4 separate regions of the Homo sapiens genome follow, and all the other regions are reported to be linked to region 1. Evidence: microRNA targets listed by miRTarBase, many of them from high-throughput screens and not tested one by one. Region 1 holds a microRNA gene; each other region holds the end of a gene's coding sequence.

Region 1 (3,080 bases):
GCACAAAGCCAAGAAAACCAACGATGCCAGATACTGAATTTCTATAGCACTGACCTTTGAACACCCTAGCAGGTGTAAACTGCTGAGTGCAGATACCATGCAGTGCAATTATGACTGAACTGTACAACTCGTATTCCCAAATTTGCAATATTGCTGAGAAATGCTTTCACAAACCTCTCAAATTCCTTTAACAAGTACAATAATTTGAGCTTTTTTCCTAATTGTCACTGTAATAAGGAAGCTACATTAACTACATTTTAAGCTACAACTCTAGTCTTTGCCTAATCTTTGCCCAGTCTCTCTATAAAACTTAAAGATGGAATATATACATGTAACTTAACAGATCAGACAACAAACGTCAAGCTCATTGTTGCTCAAACTGCCAGTTACACAAAATTCTTTTTATGTAATTCATATCCCTATTGATTCAACATATCCACACAGGTTTACGTGACTTTAGGATGAAATATGTGTAACTGCCAGTTGAATAATGATGCAAAGAACACAGGTAGTTTCGTTTGGTAGGTATAGACATGCAGTCTCTTCATTTTCCTTCTCTATACAAATATATACATTGTAATATTTTTGCCAGTATCTTACTAATTCTGTGTTATACCTGAAATACTGGGATGGTGTAATTTCTATTTTTCATCTTTTGAGTCCTTGATTATTATAAGTTAAATATTTTACTTACCTCTCAACATGAATGAGTTCAAATCACATTCATTCCTATAGAAAGTACCAATTAAAGATTTAGAAAGGATACATTTCCAGTTATTAAAACTAAAACCCAAGTATAAATTTAAGATCCAGTTTATTATACAGCCATATCCAGCTCTGTCAGAATTAAGTTTTAGTTCATGCCCGTTATCATTCAGCAGTTGAACAGTTAAATTCATCATCTGAACTGTAATCATTATTTCCCAAAAGATTATACTGTCACCAATTAAAACTTACCTAAGCGATCACTCAAGAATGGTACAGATGTGTGGAGTATGCCAATACCTAAGGTAAAAAAGTAGATTATCTGGTTTTTCATAACGTTTAGCAACCGTCTTTTTCAAACTTTTAGCAACTGTCTTGTAATTCCTTCCCACAGATCTAACAATAGTCCTGTGAGTAAAGTAAAACCACAGAGTTACTCTATGAGGCGTTTCCAACGATGTGCAGGCTACAGGAAAAGCCCCATCGGGATAGACCTCAACCACTATTTACAAGGTTTTGATTTTTTTTTAAAGACACAGGATCTGCCATGTCTTTTAAAAATCGTGTGATTCTTGCTGAATCACTTGAGCCCAGGGGTTCGAGGCTACAGTGAGATGTGGCAGGATCACATCTCACTGTAGCCTCAAACCGCTGGGCTCAAGTGTTTCTCCTGCCTTAGCCTCCAGAGTAGCTGGGGACCACAGGCACCACTGTGTCCAGCTAGTATTTATACACATAAATAACAAAGTCTAACACTCCATAGGAAAGAAATTATGAGCAGAAACTGCAATATGCTCTTACAATATTGCCAACTGCAGAAACTTCCTACTACGTTAATCACAAAAACAATAATTTCACAATCACGTTGTGCTTAGGAGCCAGAGGAATGATAAATAAAAAGTAACATCAAGTAGCTCCTTTACATGAACCAAAGGAAAAAGATTTAAACTTAAGATTTAAGTTTAAAGTCTAACTGTTGTTATGAACTTCAGTATTGCAACAGAGGATGTTGTTTTCCCAATTCGAAGATTTCAGCAAATTTTAATTCTTGGCTCAAAATTAATTGTCATCCATTATAAAATACAGGAATATAATGTGCCTGTAAGTTACGACTTTGGCATTATATAACTTTTAATCAAACTCTACATCATTCAAATTTATGAATTCTTATGACCTGTGTAATCATCTTTTATTATACTATATTTTGCATTAAACCATAAAATCCTCTGCCTCATTTTAGATTGTGCATTAATTCAAAATAATGCTGTAGGCTTCAAGTAGGAAATCCAAAGTTCTGATTATTGCTACAAACTAACAAATTCAGGACCCTCTAATGCTTGCAACTAAAATGAATCTGACACATCACTATAAAATGTGTGAATCTAGGATTCTTCTTTTCAGAAATCAGTATAAATGGGAATTAAAAGCATGGTAGAAATGTCCCTGAATAAAATGAAACTTGCTCTGACAACATACTGTTTCCTACACATAAACAAATATGATGTGAAAACTCAAATTGAGACATACCTTTAACTCCAGACACCATGTTCTCAAGATAAAAGCCTTTAAAACAAAAAGCCATTGTGTATATCATCAACATGAAATTGGAATGCAAAATTAATACTGCTGAGGATTTCCCTCATATCCCATGCTGTTTATCTATTCTACAGGCCTGGAATCAACCTTTTTTTCTTAAGAGACAGGGTCTGTCTTTGTTACTCAGGCTGGAGTACAGTGGTGCCATCAAAGCTCAGTGCAGCCTCCAACTCTGCCTCAGCCTCCCCCCTTTCTGAGTAACTCCAACTACAGGCACATGCCCCAGTACCCAGCTAATTTTTAAATTTTTGTGGAGATGTGTTTCTTACTTTCTTGCCTAGGCTGGTCTTGAACTCCTGGTTTCAAGCAATACTCCCACCTTGGTGTGGGGATTGCAGGCTTGACCCATTGCACCTGGCCTGGAACCAACCTTTATGGCTATCAATACTCCCATCAATCAACTGTCTCAGGTATCATAATATCCCTTCTTATATGTATCAAAACTCATACTGAACAATGAGTTCTGGGTTGCAAAAGAGGATTTATTTTTTGCACCTATCTGTAAGTCTTTGTCCACGTTAAACAAAAACATACATAAGTGCAGTCCCAAAATGCACTACATAGCAGAGTAGTCAGCTCTATCGTGGTGATCAAAATAATGAACATCGGGGTAATGACTGGTTCTCCCCAGGTATACATGTTGAATAAATGTGTATGCCTTTTCTTGAACTAATAAAAAGTGAAAATGGTAGTTAAAAGTAGTATTAGGCCAGGTGCCATGGCTCACACCTATAATCCCAGCATTTTGGGAGGCCAAGGCAGGCGGATCGCCTGAGGTC
Region 2 (3,080 bases), not on the chromosome of region 1:
CAGCTTCTTTTTTCTTCCCTTTCCAGATTGAGATGCTACCAGATGGGCTGTTTCAGTGCAAAAAGCTGCAGTGTTTACTTTTGGGGAAAAATAGCTTGATGAATTTGTCCCCTCATGTGGGTGAGCTGTCAAACCTTACTCATCTGGAGCTCATTGGTAATTACCTGGAAACACTTCCTCCTGAACTAGAAGGATGTCAGTCCCTAAAACGGAACTGTCTGATTGTTGAGGAGAACTTGCTCAATACTCTTCCTCTCCCTGTAACAGAACGTTTACAGACGTGCTTAGACAAATGTTGACTTAAAGAAAAGAGACCCGTGTTTCAAAATCATTTTTAAAAGTATGCTCGGCCGGGCGTGGTGGCTCATGCCTATAATCCCAGCACTTTGGGAGGCCAAGATGGGCGGATTGCTTGAGGTCAGGAGTTCGAGACCAGTCTGGCCAACCTGGTGAAACCCCATCTCTGCTAAAACTACAAAAAAATTAGCCAGGCGTGGTGGCGTGCGCCTGTAATCCCAGCTACTTGGGAGGCTGACGCAGGGGAATTGCTTGAACCAGGGAGGTGGAGGTTGCAGTGAGCCGAGATTGTGCCACTGTACACCAGCCTGGGTGACAGAGCAAGACTCTTATCTCAAAAAAAAAAAAAAAATGCTCCAGGGCTTTAAATGAGAAGTAAAATTTTCTAAGTTAATAAAGATGAAGAATGGGTGACTATTATGATGAACCATAACTAAATGTCTTATTAAAGCAACTGAGTGTCTAGCCCTAAATTAACCAGGTAAAAACTGTTAACACTAACCTGAAGTTTTGTGAATAACTGTTCTTTAACTTATTGAGATGTTGCAAGAAATGCACATCCAGGGTGGACTGGGAGCTATGAAATGACTAAATTCCTCCTTGCAGTGTTTACCTTCAAGATTGTATAGGTATTCTCTCCTCTTCTTCCCCCAGTCCCCATTACTTATTTGCACACTTGTTTTAACTGACTTCCTGTTTTGATATTTATCACCAAGACCATAAACTCATCAATATGAATTTTCTTGATGTATACTCACGACTGTCTTTGATTTATGTTCCTAAATTTTTTTAGATAGGGTATGTTGTGCTTGGCAGAATTCTTTTTTGGCTTAATTTTTACTTCCTTTCCCAGCTTGCTTGAGTCTTCCTTAACCTGGTTTTCTCTTAACACCAATGATGAACCCTGAGAAAATGCCTGCATTTGGCCTTTGCCTAGAACAGGAGCTGAGTATTTAAGATGTATTATCCTCGGGGCATCCTGAAAATTAATGTATTCCCTAAAATTTCTTCTTGTCTATCATCAAGGCCTTTTTTTATTTGTTAAGAATTTTTATATTAAATGTAAAACATATAAATATTTTCTATTGTATAATCTTGGATTCAACATCTGTGAGGATCATTTTTGTAAGATACATAGAATTTGTGCATTTCTTTATGAACTTACTGTTAGTGTTCTTGGTTTCGGCTGTTTATGACTCATGTTTATGTACATTCTGCTCCAAAATGTTTTTGTACTCTGCAACTAATTACTTTTGGATAACAAAAGCCTTGTGTTTAATGCCCTAAAGTATTTGGGGGTTTCCTTGTGAGAGGGTGGCCGAATCATCTACCTCTCTCTTCCATAGTTGCTGTGCAATCGTACGGGTAAAATTCTTAATTACTTACAAAAACTGTGATAGAGGGGAGAGGTACAGATTTGGTTTTTAAATTGATTTTAAAATACTTTATAGAAATTTAGTAAGAGTTAAAGCAAAAGACTTTTTTTCCCTCCATCTATGTAATCTCTAGCTATGATTATAATGTAAAACAGCCTCTATTCAGTGTCTAAAATGAGTTCTCAAAACCCACAAAGAAATAGATCCATTTAACTGAAATTCATCTCATGCCTTTATCTAACTCTTCTGGAAAATACATTTTGCTCCTTTTTATAAAGAGCTTTGTGCTTGGCCTTTTATTATGCATATTTTTAATGAATAAAATCAACTGACTCATTTTTGGGAAATGTACATCTTTAATATGTTTTTCCCTAAGGGTCTAGGCATTATGATGCCACCTCTTCATTTTGGATATAACTATGAAGAAATCTATTAACTGCACCTACACAAAACTGGAAAACACTATAGGTAAACAGTACTGTGTATATGGAATTGTGGTGCGTGGTATGTGTTTTCTCTTGCTTTGTTCCAGAAAGATGAAAGTGAGTCTTTAAAGCATAGCAAATAGAGCTTCCCCTCACCTGCCACACACTCCTGCACTAAAGTTCAAAGAAAAGAATTATTCAAATCAAATGAAATTTGAATAATATTAGCTATCAGGAATATAGGACACCAAACACACTGCCTCACACATTATTGTTTATTCTGAACGGAAAGGAACAGTGTAAAAATAAACTACTTACCAAAACTTGCCTTTAGTCAGAACATTCAGCTCTCAGGGAAGCAGGTATAACTGATGAAACTTCTAGGACTTCAGAAAACAGATTCTAATTATATCCATGTTTTTCGTTGTTATTTTCATTTTTTAAAGTGTGAGTTGATGTTTATTTTAGTGTTTCACAATAGAATTATCATGTATACTGATTCCAGTGTGGCATGTGATTAAGTTTTGGACATGAATATGCCAAAAGTGCTTAAATGTTTTTGGCCACATAACTAGCTAGAATTTCAAAACAAAATTCAGATTTGCTACCATTCACCTGACGAACTTCTCCATGGCTCGTCACTGGTTTGGTTCAACTGCAGAAGTCATTGGCTAAATTTTCCTTATCACCTACGTAAATTTCTAGAAGAATTTACTAGCAGGATTAATAATGAATATTATAAACTGCTTTCCACACACTAGGGTATAATTATTGGTGCAATCTATGTTGTTCTTGATGCCATGGTTTTACATCTTTTAATTTAAACCTTATACACCAGTGTTTAGGTCGCTTTTGAGACAAGGTAGCCCTGATGCAAGGAAAAATGAGGCTACTACTTCACATAAAAAATAGGGTGTTAATACCACCTTTACTGTACTGTTGGAGCAGATCTTTATTTTACAAGTGTTCATATTCACATAAG
Region 3 (3,080 bases), not on the chromosome of region 1:
TATATATATATTTTTTTTTTTTTTTTTGAGACAGAGTCTCACTCTGTTGCCTAGGCTGAGTGCAGTAGCACAATCTCAGCTCACTGCAACCTCCGCCTCCCAGATTCAAGCAATTCTCGTGCCTCAGCCTCCCAAGTAGCTGGGATTACGGGCATGTGCCACCACACCTGGCTAGTTTTTTGTATTTTAGAGACAGGGTTTTGCCATGTTGCCCAGGCTGATCCCGAACTCCTGAGCTCAGGCGAACCACCCACCTCGGCCTCGCAAAGTTCTAGGATTACAGGCGTGAGCCACGGTGCCTGGCCTCCTGTACAATATATTTTTGTATGAAGTCCCTGAGATAGAAATCTAACTTTATTTTCTTCTAAATAGTCAACTGTCTCTCATTTTAGATTGACAGTATCTTGCTTTGCAGCTCCTTTAAAACTCTTCATGGAATAAAGTGGCATTTAAATGAGGAAATAGGCTGGGTGTGGTGGTGCTTCATGCCTGTAATCCCAGCACTTTGGGAGGACGGAGTGGGACCATTGCTTGAGCCCAGGAGTTTGAGAACAGCCCGGGCAACGTAGGGAGACCTCATCTCTACAAAAAGAAAAAAAAAAGTTAGCCGAATGTGATGGAACATGCCTGTAGTCCCAGCTATTCAGCAGGCTGAAGTGGGAAGATCACTTGAGCCTGGGAGGCTGAGGCTGCAGTGAGCCGAGATTGCACCACTGCACTCCAGCCTGGGTGAGAATAAGGTTGTGTCATAAATAAATAAATAAAGTCATTTACTTAACATTTACATAGCACTGATTATCTGACAGAGACTGAGGAAGCAGAAACGAGTAAGACACCACTCCAGGCCCCAGGGATCTTTCTTGAGGGAGATTCACATCCTCGGGAAAACAAGATGTATAGTGAATGAAGGAGGTAGCAGAGGGGTCTGCAGTAACTGAGTAAGGTATGGAGCTAGAGGACTAATACCTCCAGGATAAATGAATTTATACAAAGATTGTATTTGAGAGAAGAGGTGAGGAACCACTCACTAGTAGTTTTGAGTGCCCTGAAAGTGAAATAGATTGAATTTTGTCCTGGAGGTCAATGGGATGTTCCAGGACTTAAGCCCCATAGGACTGACAATCAAAAACAGGTCTGGCTGCACTGTGGGAAATGGATTGAGGGGGCGCTGGAGTGAAGGCAGGAAGGCTGTGAGACGTGTCAGACAGGACAGGTTGAACCTGGGGCTGAGAGAACTGAACCAACTGGAAAGGTCTCTTAAGGTCTCTTACAAGGTAAAAAGAGACCTAAGGCAGGTGTGAAGAGCGATAAGGCAAGGATGAGATCCAGGTTTCTGGCGTGGGTGTCCACGGAAATGAGAAACACGATGGGGGCAGAGCTGGGGAAAAGCTGGGGAGATCAATTTCTCGCCGAGCCTGTGGTGTCTGAGGGGCATTCAGGGAGCGATCTCCAGGGGGGCAGGTCTGGAATGAAAGAAGGAGCTGAGGCCGGGCATGGTGGCGCACACCTGTAATCCCAGCACTTTGGGAGGCCGAGGCTGGCGGATCACATGAAGTCAGGAGTTCGAGACCAACCTGGCCAACATGGTGAAACCCCCGTCTCTACTAAAAATACAACAATTAGCCGGGCGTTGTGGTGCATGTCTGTAATCCCAGCTACTCAGGAGGCTGAGGCACGAGAATCGCTTGAACCCGGGAGGCGGAGTTTGAAGTGAGCCGAAATCGCACCACTACACTCCAGCCTCGACGACAGAGCAAGACTCTGTCTCAAAAAAAAAAAAAAAAAGGCCGAGGCGGGCGGATCACAAGGTCAGGAGATCGAGACCATCCTGGCTAATACGGTGAAACTCCGTCTCTACTAAAAATTCAAAAAAATTAGCCGGGCGTGGTGATGGGCGCCTGTAGTACCAGCTACTCCGGAGGCTGAGGCAGGAGAACGGCGTGAACCCGGGAGGCGGAGCTTGCAGTGAGCCGAGATGGCACCACTGCCCTCCGGCCTGGGCGAGAGTGCGAGACTCCGTCTCAAAAAAAAGAGAGAGGAGAGAAAGAAAGAAAGAAAGAAAGAGATAGAGAAAGAGAAAGAAAGAAGGAAGGAAGGAAGGAAGGAAGGAAAGAGAAAGAAAGAAAAAGAAAGAAAGAAAGAAAGAAAGAAAGAAAGAAAGAAAGAAAGAAAGAAAGAAAGAAAGAAAGAGAAAGAAAAAGAAAAGAAAGAGGGAGCTGAGCTGAACAGATAGATATGTGGGAGTCATCAGAATAGACTAGTAGACGACAATGCCCAGGGGCAGGGCGTAGAGTCAGGGTGTGGAACGAAGGAAATCCTCGTTTTCGAGTTTCACCCCCTCAGGGAGGCCCAGCCCAAGCCCTGCCCGGCCCGACCCCACCTCGCCCACACGGGCTTGATCCCGCACAAGGGGCTGCGCGTGGCAGACAACGGTTCTTCCGGCGCCCGGCTCACTGGGCACGCTGGGAACGGAAGCCCGCTCCGAACGCCGAGCACTTCGGGAGCTGTAGTTTGGGGCAGGCTCAGCTGGGCGGGTCGAGGGCTCCCTGCGAGTCCCGGCGTTGGATCATTTGAAGGACAGGTCCAGAAAGCGGTGATGCTCCCGGGGCAGGGTGCCTCTCCGGCGGCGACACGGGGCGCCCCGGGCCTCATCCCCTCTCCGCAGGGCATGGCATTTCCACGCCTCCACAATCTGCTCCACCTGCAGAGCAAGGCCAGTTAGTGCGCAGTCCCGCGGTGGCCCCTCGCCCCGAGGACCGTGGGCCGGGCTGCTCCTGCCCCCTCCCAGCGCCCTGTACCCCCTGCTGAGTGGAGCTGGGCCGGTTCCCCGCGTCCCCACCGGGATGAGTGGTTCCTGCCGGTTCTGCTCTTCCAGGGCGCTCAGCTCCGCCGGGGCCAGCAAGGCTAGTCTCAGCTCTTTCACCACCGGGGCCGCCACCTCAGCCACCGGCCGCTCCAGCACCGCCTGCAAACGCCAGCCCTGAGTCGGGCACCTGTCCTGCCGCCCGCTCACCAGTCTCGTGGCCAGCACCTCCTTCCGTGCCCTTGCGCTCCCCCAGCCCCACTCACCGCGCCCACGC
Region 4 (3,080 bases), not on the chromosome of region 1:
AAAAAAAAAAAAAAAAAACAAGCCTGGCAGGGGTAGGGCAGGGAGGGGTTGCTCATGCCTTATACTCCCAGCACTTTGGGAGGCCGAGGCGGGCCTATCACCTGAGGCCAGCAGTTCAAGACCAGCCTGGGCAACACGGCGAAACCCCGTCTCTACTAAAAATACAAAAATTAGCCGGACGTGGTGGTGCACGTCTATAATCCCAGCTACTCGGGAGGCTGAGGCAGAAGAATTGCTTGAACCCAGGAGGCGGAAGTTGCAGTGAGCTGAGATTGCACCATTGCACTCCAGCCTGGGCAACAAGAGTGAAACTCCGTCTCAAAAAAATAAAAAACATACCTATTTAAGGAGGCTTTTTTCCTTAGTTTTAGTTGGTGTTGATAAGCTCAGCAAAGGAGCTTTAGGGTAATACTTGATGACAGCAAAATGAAGGAAACCTTACTGAAGGTAAAAACTTAGCAAAACACTCCCCAGAGGGACAAAAGTTTTTTGCAAATACAATATACTTACTTATGCTTTCTACCAGTCACCAACACAGAAAGACCAAAAATTGTGTATGAGAAAGTGATATTAAGATTTGAGATTTTATTCTAATTCAGTGGCATCAATCATGTAAAGAGCCATGCGGTTGAAGTGGTCCGCTGTGGCACGCAGCCCCACAGTGATGGTGCGCTTTATGCCCTGTTCATGTTGGGGCAGCCTATACCATCTAGAAACCACAGCTGCAGTAACCATTGATATATAGACCTGTGTTACTTCTACAAGTGTTCCATTCCAACTGTACATATGCTTTAGAGTTCAAAATCTAAGTCCAGATATACTATTATAATGGGCCAGGTCCCAGACATTCTTCCTCACACCAACCAGCTAGTCCTTTTGATCTTACTCCGAACCCCAATGTACGAAATCTGAAGTGCTTGTAAGGATTTAGAACAGCACAGACTACCCGGAACAAAGGAGATACAAAACATTTCTTAGCAACCAAAAATAAAAGGGAAATGGGCCACTGAGGCAGATGGGTCTCTCAGATTAAATGCCATATAAATTGCATGTGTGGAACCAAATACAGCAGAAAACCCTCAGTTAATGAGGCATAGCTTGGTAAATTGGGAACTTGATGAGGGTTTTTAACGTAATCTGGTATCACTTAGAATGGCCTTAGTTTCCCATTCTCTCAGCACCTTCACAGAGGCCCACATGCCTCTGACATCAAATCTGTCAAACTTGGGGACAAAGGACATTAACAGTTCTTGAAAGGTGACCTTAGTTAATGATACCCACAGATACTAATTTCATTACTTAAGGAATCTGTGTTCCTCAGAATTTCCAGAATCACAAGTGATACCTGCCAATTACAGTTTAAGTTACTAACGGATATACAACTCTTCAAGGCAGAAACTTAAGTCTCATTATGTTGGTTACATATACTGTTTTTATTTGGGTTTGTTGAATGAGAATAAAAACACCCCAGTTTCTTCTGCAGGTCGAGCCCTTCTCTATAACGGTCATTACAAACAACCCTGAAGTGGCTGGAATATAGTCAGCAAGGGGCCCACATGAACAGCTCATCTGGAATCTTTGCAAGTACGTATTTATGTCCTTTGGTGCCTTGCACAGTAAGGCACTGTTAATGACGTAACAGAATAGAGGAAATGCCCACAGCAAATAGTTCTAGTGACAATTTACTAGACAAGTTACAGTTTAATAATGGTGGTGGTGATTGTTTCTTTCATTTTATTATTATTATTTTTTTACAATAAGGGTGTAGCCTTTATACTCCACACACACAAAATAAAACAAGTGCTTATTACGAAAAGAGTCCCTGCCCCCACCCCCTAGAACATCCTGAACATAGCAATTCAACAGAACAGAAAAATCAAGACGTTTGATTTCAAAATTTCAATAAAAAAGCAAAAGTATGTAATGCAACAGCTGTTCAACTTCCAACTCTAAATAGGCACCATTAAACAAAAAACCCCAGTATTTTAAATTTCTCCAGCACACATTCCAGGATCAATGCTCTGAACTGTAATCAGCTAGTAATTCATAACGGGAATACAGCCTTAGAATGGAAGCTATATTGCTTCCCTGCCCCCTTTCTCTTACAATTGGAGAGTGTAGGTATTAAGGGATACAAAGTCAGAGGAAGAATAATTAAAAAGAAAAATGCCCAAAGCTGCAGCTGTTTGGACTAGGAAGACAGCATTTTACAAACGTTCAAAAAATCCCAAGGCAAGTAACACAATTTGTTCACTAGCACTCTTACTTGAAAGAATAAAGAGATCAGCATCTTATTATATAAAACTGTACTTTCAGAACTGTATTACAGGTTCACCAGAAACTATGGATGTAGTTTTAGGCATCATCAAGGAAAACAGGTTCAGTTCAGATCAAGTTAGATACTGTACATCTAGCCTAGCTGGATCTGGTGTCTGGATCTGCTCACTGTCACCCTGAACAGCTGTGAACTAAACAATAGTACGTAACTCCGTAGGAAGCTTAAGGACTGAAGAAATGTACACAGCTAGTTAGATCTCCCCTGCTTCGCGCTCTTCAGAGCTCCTCCTGTCTTCTGATCTGCCATTAGCACTCTCATAGGACCGCTTCTTATCTTTCCGATCTCTGTCACGAGGTGATCTGTCTCTTGAACTCCTGTCTCTGTCACATGATGCTAAGTCTTGGTCTCTGAATCTTTCTTTTGAGGATCTGAAAAATATTAATTTGAGGAGCAAAATATGTTGGGAAACCCAAAAACCCAAATTAAAGAATAGGATAAATATTAAGCTCTTGATAGCTGAAGATATATAGACGAATATACCCATGACAGAGGAGTCAGTTTTCTGACAAATTACAGAGCACTACCATAGTTGATAAGGGCATTAAAACAAGAAGATGGGTGAAAAACAAATAGCAGAGGGTCAGAAGGCTAAAATAATTTCTTACAGGCTACTCTCATCTCAGAGACAACACAGAGTTTCTCCAATTCATAAAAGGTATTTTAATATAAAAAATAATACATAGATAACAGCTTTAAAAAGTGAAAGAAATGTATTATCTAAATTTTAAATGGCTTAGAATAG

What was found. The annotated mature microRNA hsa-miR-1304-3p reads UCUCACUGUAGCCUCGAACCCC and lies in region 1 at 1,299-1,320, opposite strand. An mRNA with a match to its seed (bases 2 to 7 or 8) in the 3' UTR can be bound and repressed. Matches are read on the target gene's strand: a 7mer-m8 pairs with bases 2 to 8, a 7mer-A1 pairs with bases 2 to 7 and ends in A, and an 8mer does both.
Region 2: miRTarBase lists LRRC8B as a target of hsa-miR-1304-3p. Seed matches in the 3' UTR shown: 7mer-m8 at 573-579.
Region 3: the mRNA of BTBD19 is a reported target of hsa-miR-1304-3p. Seed matches in the 3' UTR shown: 7mer-m8 at 2,450-2,456.
Region 4: miRTarBase lists LUC7L2 as a target of hsa-miR-1304-3p. Seed matches in the 3' UTR shown: 7mer-m8 at 2,442-2,448.

The regions. Positions count from the first base shown.
Region 1 is chr11:93,732,393-93,735,472 of GRCh38, forward strand. It overlaps MIR1304 (microRNA 1304), which reads right to left and starts at 1,372; the gene lies at 1,282-1,372. It overlaps SNORA8 (small nucleolar RNA, H/ACA box 8), which reads right to left and starts at 107; the gene lies at 1-107. SNORD5 (small nucleolar RNA, C/D box 5) reads right to left here and starts at 908; the gene lies at 836-908. It overlaps SNORA18 (small nucleolar RNA, H/ACA box 18), which reads right to left and starts at 1,205; the gene lies at 1,074-1,205. It also overlaps SNORA40 and a transcript of TAF1D not described here.
Region 2 is chr1:89,592,745-89,595,824 of GRCh38, forward strand. LRRC8B (leucine rich repeat containing 8 VRAC subunit B) reads left to right here. Exons shown (of 6, transcript NM_001369817.2): 6 at 27-3,080. The coding sequence ends at 299. Among named protein-coding and RNA genes, the nearest start is that of LRRC8C-DT, 39 kb to the right of the region's middle.
Region 3 is chr1:44,813,259-44,816,338 of GRCh38, reverse strand. It overlaps BTBD19 (BTB domain containing 19), which reads right to left. Exons shown (of 8, transcript NM_001136537.3): 6 at 3,070-3,080; 7 at 2,840-2,965; 8 at 754-2,701. The coding sequence ends at 2,567. Among named protein-coding and RNA genes, the nearest start is that of BTBD19, 6.3 kb to the right of the region's middle. RefSeq lists a silencer at 2,351-2,420.
Region 4 is chr7:139,421,789-139,424,868 of GRCh38, reverse strand. LUC7L2 (LUC7 like 2, pre-mRNA splicing factor) reads right to left here. Exons shown (of 10, transcript NM_016019.5): 10 at 1,415-2,706. The coding sequence ends at 2,529. It overlaps FMC1-LUC7L2 (FMC1-LUC7L2 readthrough), which reads right to left. Exons shown (of 11, transcript NM_001244584.3): 11 at 1,415-2,706. The coding sequence ends at 2,529. LOC100129148 (a long non-coding RNA gene) reads left to right here. Exons shown (of 3, transcript NR_033999.1): 2 at 1,484-1,584. Among named protein-coding and RNA genes, the nearest start is that of KLRG2, 60 kb to the left of the region's middle.